Homo sapiens: one gene and its partners. The protein of the gene in region 2 purifies or fractionates together with the protein of the main gene of each other region. This does not show direct contact. Each region holds a gene or a part of one and is shown on either strand. Other genes may lie near its edges.

Region 1 (3,652 bases), on a different chromosome or scaffold from region 2:
ACAGGCATGAGCCACCCCGCCCAGCCCGGCCGTCTCTTTTTCTACAGTAGAATTTCTTTTCTAATTTTTTGATCTCACAAGAGGATGTCCTGGAATTCAGTAGAATTTCTAACATTGTCACTGGTTTTCCTGAAAGTGAGATTTATCTCATTAGACATGTTTGGTATAAATACCTCCTCTGTTTGCTCTACTCCTAACCAGGAGGGATGGTTGCTTTTATACAGACCGCATTCTGGAACCTTCTTTACAGATACCCAGCCCTTCACGGGCATCCCATCAGTAGGCGATTGCTATAGTTTGAACTTGCATTAGGTGTTTTACCCTTTAAAATACTGTGTCCCTGGAAAAGTAAAAATGAGGGTTGAGCTATTAAAAATTGGGACTTGACCCAGGAATAAATATTTTTAAAAATCATTGTATCTTTGAGAACACCCATCGCCCCCCTCTGGCCAGTCTTCCCTCAGTGCATGCTCACACTCCGTTTCTTCCAGCCCGGAATCTCCATCGAACGCCCTCATTTGCATTCTGAGTGCTGAGTGCTCCCAGACGGAGCTGCTTATTAAGTGCGGCTGGCTCTTCTCTAGTCAGGCCAGGTAGAGGCTCTGGGAGGCCCAGTCAGGGGGCTGCTCTCCCCAGCCCCCTTCCTGCCTCCCTCTGGTCACCAGAGTCATCCGGCCTCTCAGTGATGTATTTAGGAAACACGCCTGGGGAATTGCATCCCCCTCTCTCTTTCGGTTCCTGTGAGGAGCCCCAGGAGAGCCTGTTCTGCATTTCCTTGCGACAGACCCCCTCGAGGACGGTGCCAGACTCGGAGGCCCCCCCAGGGTGGGATCGTGCCGACTCGGGTCCCACGCAGCCACCTCTGTCTCTCTCACCCGCTCCCGAAACAAAGAGACCCGGACAGGCAGCCAAGAAAGAAACGAAGGAACCTAAGAAGGTAGTACAGCCTGCCCACGGTGCGCCTGGCGGCCGGGAGGGTTTGGGCAGGAGGCACGCTTCCCAGAGCGCCATCCTCTTAATTCACCACACATGCAAATAGCCTCCTGATACAAACAGCCGAGTGTCTACAGTGCACACGGCATGATGGGTGTCTGTGTATTTGTGCCTTCAGATAATAGGATAATAGCCCACCCAGGTCAGCATGGGGACACAGCCCGGCCCCCAGAGGTCGCCTCTGGCCACTACCTGTCAGACCCACCCGCAAGGGACCAGACGGCAGCCGCTGCTTTGTCACTGTGGTGTGTGCCTGCTGCCGGCTCACAGATCCTTTCTCCCAGCCGTGGACTTTGGGACTGCTTTCAGTGTGGGGCTGGGATCCGTCAGGCCCCAGGAGCCTCCTTGCCTATCTATTGGCGAATGCGCTTGTTTTTCTTAGGTGCGTGCCAAGGAGCTGAGGGTTTAGCTCGCAGGATGAGCGTGTGTTCAGCTTTAGGAGACACTGCTGAGCAGTTGTCCTAAATGGTTGGTTGCCCCAAGTCACACATCCTGCAGCAGAGGACAAGGGCCCTGGATATCCCTCATCTTCACCAATACTGGGCAGTGCCGGTTCTTTAACTTAGCCATTGTGCTGGGGCTGATGACATCTCATTGTGTCTTCCTCTGCATCTCCACAGCGAGGTGTGACGCTGGGCACCTTCTCGTGTCCCTGTTACCATCTCACCACTCTTTTGGGGCAGTGCTTGTTCAAGTCTCTATCCGTTGTTTTTTTTTTCCCCCATAAAGATGGGGTCTCACTATTGCCCAGGCTGGTCTCAAACTCCTGGGCCCAAGTGATCCTCCTGCCTCGTAGCTGGGACTGCAGGTGTAGCCACCACACCTGGCTTTCCTTTCCATTTTTAATGGTGTTCTCTTCAGGACTTGCAGGAGTCCTTTCTGTATTATGGATATAAGTCCTCTGTTAGGTGTATTTATTGTGATATCTTCTCCCAATCTGTAGATTGCCTTTTTACTTGTAATGGTTTTTTGTTTGTTTGTTTGTTTGTTTGTTTTGAGACAGGGTCTCACTCTGTCAGCCAGGCTGGAGTGCATTGGCATGATCTTGGCTCACTGCAACCTCCGCCTCCCAGGTTCAAGCAATTCTCCTGCCTCAGCCTCTCCAGTAGCTGGGATTACAGGTGCCCACCCCACTCCCAGCTAATTTTTTGTATTTTTAGTAGAGATGGGGTTTCACCATGTTGGCCAGGCTGGTCTCAAACTCCTGACCTCAAGTGATCTGCCTGCCTTGGCCTCCCAAAGTACTGGGATTACAGGTGTGAGCCACCATGCCCGGCCTAGTAATGGTATTTTATGAAAAATATCATTCTTCATTTTAATAAAGTTCAGTGATCAGATTTTTCTTTTATGGCTGCTGTCTTGAAAATAAACACACATTTAATTCCAAATTTGTGTGAGCTCTGAGATAAAACATGATACTTGAGCAGGTTTCCAGTGCATAGGCTATCACAGGCCTCCCCGGGACAGCTTGTCTGGCCAGTAGAACTCACAGAGAAACAGAATTGAGGGTGTGTAGTAGCTGCTGAGGCTTCTCCTCTTTCTTCAGTAGAAGTGAAGTGCATCAGGCCGGGCATGGCGGCTCACACCTGTCACCCCAGCACTCTGGGAGGCCGGGCGCAGCAGCTCCTGCCTGTCACCCCAGCATTCTGGGAGTCAGGGTGCGGCGGCTCACGCCTGTCACCCCAGCACTCTGGGATGCTGAGGCGAGCAGATCATGAGGTCAGGAGTTCACGATCAGCGTGGCCAAGATGGTGAAACCCCATCTCTACTAAAAATACAAAAATTAGCCATGCATGGTGGTGGGTGCCTGTAATCCCAGCTACTCAGGAGGTTGAGGCATAGAACTACTTGAACCCGGGAGGCAGAGGTTGCAGTGCGCCGAGATCGCGCCATTGCACTCCAGCCTGGGGGACAGAGCGAGACTCTGTCTCAGAAAACTAACAAACCAAAATGAAGTGCATCATGTGAAGAATAAAGTAAAGTTTCCTAATAACCGAATTCTCCACACATGGGAAACACAGAGGGCTGTATCTGCCTCCGACACACACTGACTTGGACAGCCCGCCTTCCACTTCTCAAAGGGGAGGACGTCGGAAGCTTTGTCAGTGTTTAGACGTAAAAAGTTCCTGAAGGCACGTTACTGTTCTGACCTATTTAAATGACAGTAAAATACACAGAACAAAATGCACATTTTTACCATTTTCTGAGTGCACAGTTCTGTGGCACCAAGTACATTCACACTGTTGTGTTGCCATCACCACCATCCATCTCCAGAACTGTCTCACCTTCCCAAACAGAAACTCTGTCTCCTTGAAACGAAACAACTCCCGGTTCCCTCCCACCTCCATCCTCCTGGTGTCTCTGGATCTGCTTCCCACCTCCATCCTCCTGGTGTCTCTGTGGATCTGCTCCCCACCTCCATCCTCCTGGTGTCTCTGTGGATCTGCCCCCCACCTCCATCCTCCTGGTGTCTCTGTGGATCTGCCCCCGACCTCCATTCTCCTGGTGTCTCTGGATCTGCTCCCCACCTCCATCCTCCTGGTGTCTCTGTGGATCTGCTCCCCACCTCCATCCTCCTGGTGTGTCTGGATCTGCTCCCCACCTCCATCCTGGTGTCTCTATGGATCTGCTCCCCACCTCCATCCTCCTGGCGTCTCTG
Region 2 (3,652 bases):
CCAGCACTTTGGGAAGCCGAGGCGGGCGGATCGCCTGAGGTCAGGAGTTTGAGACCAGCCTGGCCAACATAGTGAAACCCCATCTCTACTAAAAATACAAAAAAAAAATTAGCTGGGAGTGGTGGCGGGCACCTGTAATCCCAGCTACTCAGGAGGCTGAGGCAGGAGAATTGCTTGAACCCGGGAGGCAGAGGTTGCAGTGAGCTGAGATTGCACCATTACACTTCAGCCTGGCCAACAAGAGCAAAACTCCACCTCAAAAATAAAATAAAATAAAATAAAATAAAATAAAATAAAGATTACCTGGGAGAAATATTTTTGGAGGGTTTTTCCTTATTACAGATTTGATAACTTTAAAATTCTCTGGCCGGGCGCGGTGGCTCACGCCTGTAATCCCAGCACTTTGGGAGGCTGAGGCAGGCAGATCACGAGGTCAGGAGATCGAGACCATCCTGGCTAACACAGTGAAACCCTGTCTCTACTAAAAATACAAAAAAATTAGCCAGGCACGGTGGTGGGCGCCTGTAGTCCCAGCTACTCGGGAGGCTGAGGCAGGAGAATGGCGTGAACCCGGGAGGCGGAGCTTGTAGTGAGCCGAGATTGCGCCACTGCACTCCAGCCTGGGCGACAGAGCGAGACTCCGTCTCAAAACAAAAAAAAAAATTTTCTGTGGCTCCTTACTGTCTACAGTATAAGGTCCAAAACCCTTCAAGCTACCTGTTGCAAACATCCCATCCACATCCAGAAATACGCACAATCCCCCTACTCTATACTAAACTATATCATGCTCTTGGATTTGTCTGGTTCCTATCTCTAAAATGCCCTTCTGTCCTTTTTCCCTCCTTGCCTGAGTCACTGCCATCCTCTGCAAAGACTTCCACAATCTCTATTCCTTGCCCTCCCCTACCACACCCCCTCTCCACCACATAGTTACTTTTTCTTTTGTGCTTACAAACTTTTCCTCTGTGTATCTATTACACTTATCACATTGTTTTGTAATTATTTATCTGTCTCCTCCATTAAAACTCAGCAGGTTTTTTTTTTACTCTCAAGAGTGTTTTGCACAGTAGTTAGCACAAAATAAATATTCGGTAGTACATAAAATGAATGTACCTATGTTCTAAGTCCTCATCTACCTCATCTACAAAAAAAAAAAAAAAAAATGGAGATTAGAAAAATAAAGGAAGTGATAAGAAAAGTGTTCCTTAAAGAAATTTGGAGTTTATAATTATAATAACACTGAAACACCATTTTAAAAAAATCAGCCAGGTGTGGTAGTTCACACCTATAATCCCAGCTATTCCTGAGGCTGAGGCAGGAGGGCCACTTGAGCCCAGGAGGCAGGGGCTGCAGTGAACGTGACGGTGTCACTGTGTCACTGCACTCCATCCTGGCTGACAGAGCAAGACCCTGTTTCAAAAAAGAAAAAAATAAGAAAAGAAAGTTAAACACCAAAAACAACAACAAAACACCAACATTAGCAGCAGCTAACATTTAAGACTTTTTTTTTTTTTTTTTTTTTTTGGGATGGAGTTTTGCTTGTTGCCCAGGCTGGAGAGTGCAATGGCACAATCTCGGCTCACTGCAATCTCAGCCTCCCAGGTTCAAGCAGTTCCCCTGCCTCAGCTTCCCTAATAGCTGGGATTACAGGTGCCCGCCACCACGCCCAGCTAATTTTTTCTATTTTTAGTAGAGACGGGGTTTCACTATGTTGGCCAGGCTGGTCTCAAACTCCTGACCTCAGGTGATCCACCCACCTCAGCCTCCCAAAGTGCTGGGATTACAGGCATGAGCCACCGCGCCTGGCTGAGACTTTTATACATATTAGTTATCTAGTTCTCAACTTTATAAGGAGGCTAGTATTATTACAACTATTTTACTGAGACACAGAGAAGTAACTTCTCCAAAACTACACAGATAGTAAATGAAACAGGATACAAACCCAGGTAGTCTGGCATCAGAGTTCATGTTCTTAACTACTAAATTACATTATTTCTTTAGCTCAAGCAAAAGGCCACTGGAATTAGAGAAGAAAATTGAGTACTAGCCCTGGTTCTTTTCATTTCTTAACGTCTTCTTTATTCTTAGTTCTAGTCCTGGTTCTTTAATATCTTAATCTCTTCTTTATTCCTAACATGCTAAAAAAAAAAAAAAAAAAAAAAAAAACTACTCAAAAAGAAAATCATTCCATTAGCTGTCACTTTTTAAAATTCACTTCAATAAATTAGCAATACTTTCATCAAACTTAGATGGGCAACTAATCTGGGAAGCCTTCCCAACATCTAAAACCAGGGCCCTCTTGCTGGGTGTTCTTGGGGCATCCTGAGTTTGTCCTTCCTAGAACTCATTCAAGAGTATAGTTGTATGAATCTCTGAACAATTCCTCTCTCTTCCACTGGACGCTAAACTCCACAAAAAATTCATGACTACTTTACCCATCATTGTCTGCACAGCACACAGTTGGCCCACAAAAGATGTCTCAAAAAAAAAAAAAAAAACACTAATCACAGTTTTTTTGTTTTGTTTTGTTTTGTTTTTAACACAGGGTCTCACTCTGTTGCTGGAGTGCAGTGGCACGATCTTGGCTCACTGCAACCTCTGCCTCCCAGGTTCAAGCAATTCTCCCACCTCAGTCTCCCAAGTAGTTGGGACTACAGGCGTGCACCACGATGCCCGGCTAATTTTTGTATTTTTTGGTAGTGACGGGGTTTCACCACATTGACCAAGCTGGTCTCGAACTCCTGATCTCAGTGATCTGCACGCCTCGGCTTCCCAAAGTGATGGAATTACAGGCATGAGCCACTAAGCCAGCCCACAGTAAGTTATAATACTTAAGAAAGAAATGGCAACAAGGTTTACAAGCTGCCTAAGGTACTAAACGTTGATTAAATTTCTAACCATCAAGTACTTTAAATTCATGTTTTTCTTTGAAGGACTATTAAGTAAAATATTCAATACATACATATTGGAGCTACTTCACTTTGGTTTTGTTTTGAGGTTTTTTTGTTTTTGTTTTCCAGCTTCTTTCAAGCCTCAGAGAAACACCTTAGTAAGCTAATGAAAAAGGAGGAGCAGGAGGAGGGACAAAAGCAGGAGAACCAGAAACCAAATTTCCGTAAAGTATCCTGAGACTTATTGATGATGTTCAAACACTTTGAGTTCTAATTGATGGTAAGCAGTTTGTCTGTTTCTTCTTTTAAAAAATGCTATTTAAAGGAAACTATTCAGAAGAAAATAAGAATAGTTAAAATGAAAAGTTCATCTAAAAACAAAATGCTAAAGGAATGCCACATAATTTTTTTTTTTTTTTTAGACGGAGTTCCGGTCTTGTTGCTCAGGCTGGAGTGCAATGGAGCAATCTCAGCTCACTGCAATCTCCACCTCCCGGGTTCAAGTGATTCTCCTACCTCAGCCTCCTGAGTCGCTGGGATTATAGGCATGCACCACCACTCCCGGCTAATTTTGTATTTTTAGTAGAGTCAGGGTTTCTCCATGTTGGTCAGGCTGGTCTCGAACTCCCGACCTCAGGTGATCCGCCCGTCTCGGCCTCCCAAAGTGCTGGGATTACAGGAATGAGCCACTGCACCCAGCCAAGGAATGCCACATAATTTCAAAGCACAGAGTCCATTTCAAATAAATCTCTAAATTAACA
Region 3 (3,652 bases), on a different chromosome or scaffold from region 2:
TTATACGCTACTAGCACAAAATACAGTTTTCTAGATCCCTGTGAGTGAAGAGAGGAGTGTTTATTACATTACTATACCATGACACTGAAAATATTTTGAGACAAGATGATACTGTATTTTAAGATTTAAGTTATTTCTGGATACAACTTGGAAATTCTTAAGAGTTCAGTTTATGGTATATATATCATAGTTAATTTATATTTCAATATTTGGGATATGTTATATATTTGATGCTTAATTTTGTTACTATTTTATTTAATAAAATGATGTTTTGGAAAGAGGATTTGCTTTATGATTATGACTCTTTAAGAAGGGTATTTCTTATTGGGGAATTTACTGTCTGTCAGATAATTTTTCTTCCCTTCAAACTATTTGAAAATACATTTTCAAATTCTGCTGCTTATTAGCTGTGCAAGGTTGGGCAAATTACTTACCCTCTCTGTGCTTCAGTATCATGTAGTTACAATGGAGATGATACTTGTAATTACGTCATAGGTTTCTTAAGAGAATTGAATGGATTAATGTTTCAAGTGCTAAGAATGTTGTTCAAAGTAAGTATTTGTTAAATAACTTTGAAGGAATGAAAAGGAAAGTCCTTACTTTTCTTTTGTTTTGCAAATTAGAAAGCCGACCGAGCAAAGAGATTTGAATTTTTACTGAAGCAGACAGAACTTTTTGCACATTTCATTCAGCCTTCAGCACAGAAATCTCCAACATCTCCACTGAACATGAAATTGGGACGTCCCCGAATAAAGAAAGATGAAAAGCAGAGCTTAATTTCTGCTGGAGAGTATGTTGGCACCTCTCTCTCTACTTTCTTTCCTTTCTCCTACCTTTTCTTCCTCCTGTCCTCCCTTGATCCCTTCATGCACCCCTTCGCTCTTCATTGTTCAGTATACCTTCATGTGACAAAAAATATTGCCATTATAATTATGTTTTGAAGACAACTATATTTTTTTCTCACTAGAGGCTGATCAGTAAAAATGTAGGCTGGTTCTACTGATTTCTAAGCAAGACCTTGGACAACTCATTCTTTTTCTATAAAAGATAATAGCCATGTACACTGATTTAATTGATACCTTATCATTTAGGTCGAATATGAAGGGATTTCCTTTTTTAATTTCAGCTACCGCCATAGGCGCACAGAGCAAGAAGAAGATGAAGAGCTACTGTCTGAGAGTCGGAAAACATCTAATGTGTGTATTAGATTTGAGGTGTCACCTTCATGTAAGTACTTCATCACATTGGTGAGTTCTTTTTCAATTTAGTTTTAGAAAAATTTTACTTGAGTATGTTAATGAAAGTATGAAATGTCCTTGCATTTTTTCACCAGATGTGAAAGGGGGGCCACTGAGAGATTATCAGATTCGAGGACTGAATTGGTTGATCTCTTTATATGAAAATGGAGTCAATGGCATTTTGGCTGATGAAATGGTAAGGAATTGGTAGCTAAAAACACATTCTCAGTTATCAATGATTTTTATGTAAATTTGAAAAACCTGAGCTTACCTGCCCCCCTGATGCCTGGAGGCTTTTTAAAAGTTGTTATCATGTAAAAGGTATTTTGTAGTCTTAGAATTATTATTATTTTTTTGAGAGAGGATCTCTTTGTGTTTCCAGGCTTGAGTGCAGTGGTGCAATCTCGGCTCACTGTACCCTCGACTTCCTGGGTTCAAGCGATCCTCCTGCCTCAGCCTCCTGAGTAGCTGCGACTCCAGGCACGTGCCCACCACACTGGGCTAATTTTTATTTTTATTTTTAGTAGAGACAGGTCTCGCCACGTCACCCACACTGATTTTGAACTCCTGGGCTCAAGCAGTCCTCCCACCTCGACCTCCCGAAGTGTTGGGATTACAGGTGTGAGCCACAGCACCCAGCTAGAATTGTTTCGTTAAGTCACCGCTAGAACACAGACTTTCACAGGCCATAAAACTCTTACTGAGCTTTCCTCAAATGGTCCAAAAACCTTCTCTGTACTTTTGTTTTTGTTTGCATTTTGGCTTCCAGGAAGCACAGAGTCAAGATGGATGCCCAAATGATGCCTTTATGTAACTTTTTTTTTAAAATTTTTTGAGATGGAGTCTCGCTCTGTCACCCAGACTGGAGTGCAGTGGCACGATCTCAGCTCACTGCCACCTCCACCTCCCAGGTTCAAGCAATTCTCTGTCTCAGTCTCCTGAATAGCTGGGGTTACAGGCGCCTGCCACCACGTCCGGCTAATTTTTTTGTATTTTTAGTAGAGATGGGGTTTCACCGTTTTGGCCAGGCTGGTCTTGAACTCCTGACCTTGTGATCCACCTGCTTCGGCCTCCCAGAGTGCTGGGATTACAGGTGTGAGCCACCCCCACCCTGGCCTTATGTAACCTTTAATGGTCTGCCCTGTGTGTCCTTCTGTCTTTTCCTATTCTTTATCTACTTGTCTTTCTTACTTTCCTTGTCGTCTCTTTATTTCTATTTTGCCATTAATTTATGTTCCATGTTTTCATTGTAGGCTACCTGAAATCCTTTTGGGAATAAGGTGGGGTATACAAACCAAACAATATGTAAATGACTGCCTGAATATATGCATGTGTGAATGATTATCAATATTTTGACTTGTGAACAATCAAAAAGTGCATAGGTGGAATAAGGAACGAATAAAGAGTAATGTTGAATCTTGATACAGTACAGTGCATGGTGGGGCTTTGGAAATCAGTGAAGGAGTTATAAATGTGTAAATAAAATAACTGAACAGGAAAAAGTAAGGCATATAAGATGCTAATTCATCAGCTAAAGGGGGAATACATGAAGGCTTTTTTTTTTTTGAGACGGAGTCTCGCTCTGTCGCCCAGGCTGGAGTGCAGTGGCATGATCTCGGCTCACTGCAATCTCCTCCTTCTGGGTTCATGCCATTCTCCTGCCTCAGCCTCCCGAGTAGCTGGGACTACAGGCGCCCGCCACCGCGCCCAGCTAATTTTTTGTATTTTTTTAGTAGAGACGGGGTTTCACGATGGTCTCGATCTCCTGACCTCGTGATCCTCCCGCCTTGGCCTCCCAAAGTGCTGGGATTACAGGCGTGAGCCACTGTGCCTGGCCCCATATTTGTATTTTAAGACCAAATTAATAAAATGCGATTTAAGAGAGGGCAGGGAAAGTTCTAAATCCATATAACTCAATGATACTCATATTTATGTGACTCTGAAACCATACTTGTAATCACTATTATCCAGAAGAGCCACATGATGATACGTGCCCTATGGCGTCTAGTATAGTTGGTAGTCAGTCGCATAAGTACTCATCCCTGGTTGAGCAACTGTTAGGTGTGTGGCAGAGGATCCCTTAAAGCAAGGGTCTGTAGCTCCTTATATTTAGGTATTCTAGTTTGAAGACTGTTGTCAGCTCAGAGGGGGAGGAGCTTGGTTAATTGGACAATGGAAGGACCAGGATTATTTGCCCCAAGCAGCTCTTGGCTTCAGCCTGTCTAAACATGAAGGATCTGATCTTTAGTGATGAATTTGTGCTGATATCAGATATATGTATTATATATATAATATATAATATATAAATATATATAATATATACTTACTTTTTTTAATATATATATATAATTTTTTTTTGAGATGGAGTTTTGCTCTTGTTGTCCAGGCTGGAGTGCAATGGCGTGATCATTGCT

What was found.
Region 1: the proteins of EEA1 (region 2) and SEC16A purify together in Homo sapiens (affinity purification with mass spectrometry; one large-scale study listed by BioGRID and IntAct). This does not show direct contact.
Region 3: the proteins of EEA1 (region 2) and SMARCA1 purify together in Homo sapiens (affinity purification with mass spectrometry; one large-scale study listed by BioGRID and IntAct). This does not show direct contact.

What each region holds. Positions count from the first base shown.
Region 1 is NC_000009.12:136,448,541-136,452,192, reverse strand, and holds part of SEC16A (protein transport protein Sec16A), read left to right. Parts: intron 1-784; coding exon 785-937; intron 938-3,652. UniProt on the Homo sapiens protein: Acts as a molecular scaffold that plays a key role in the organization of the endoplasmic reticulum exit sites (ERES), also known as transitional endoplasmic reticulum (tER).
Region 2 is NC_000012.12:92,922,701-92,926,352, forward strand, and holds part of EEA1 (early endosome antigen 1), read right to left. Parts: intron 1-3,652. UniProt on the Homo sapiens protein: Binds phospholipid vesicles containing phosphatidylinositol 3-phosphate and participates in endosomal trafficking.
Region 3 is NC_000023.11:129,513,469-129,517,120, reverse strand, and holds part of SMARCA1 (SWI/SNF-related matrix-associated actin-dependent regulator of chromatin subfamily A member 1), read left to right. Parts: intron 1-623; coding exon 624-790; intron 791-1,126; coding exon 1,127-1,227; intron 1,228-1,333; coding exon 1,334-1,434; intron 1,435-3,652.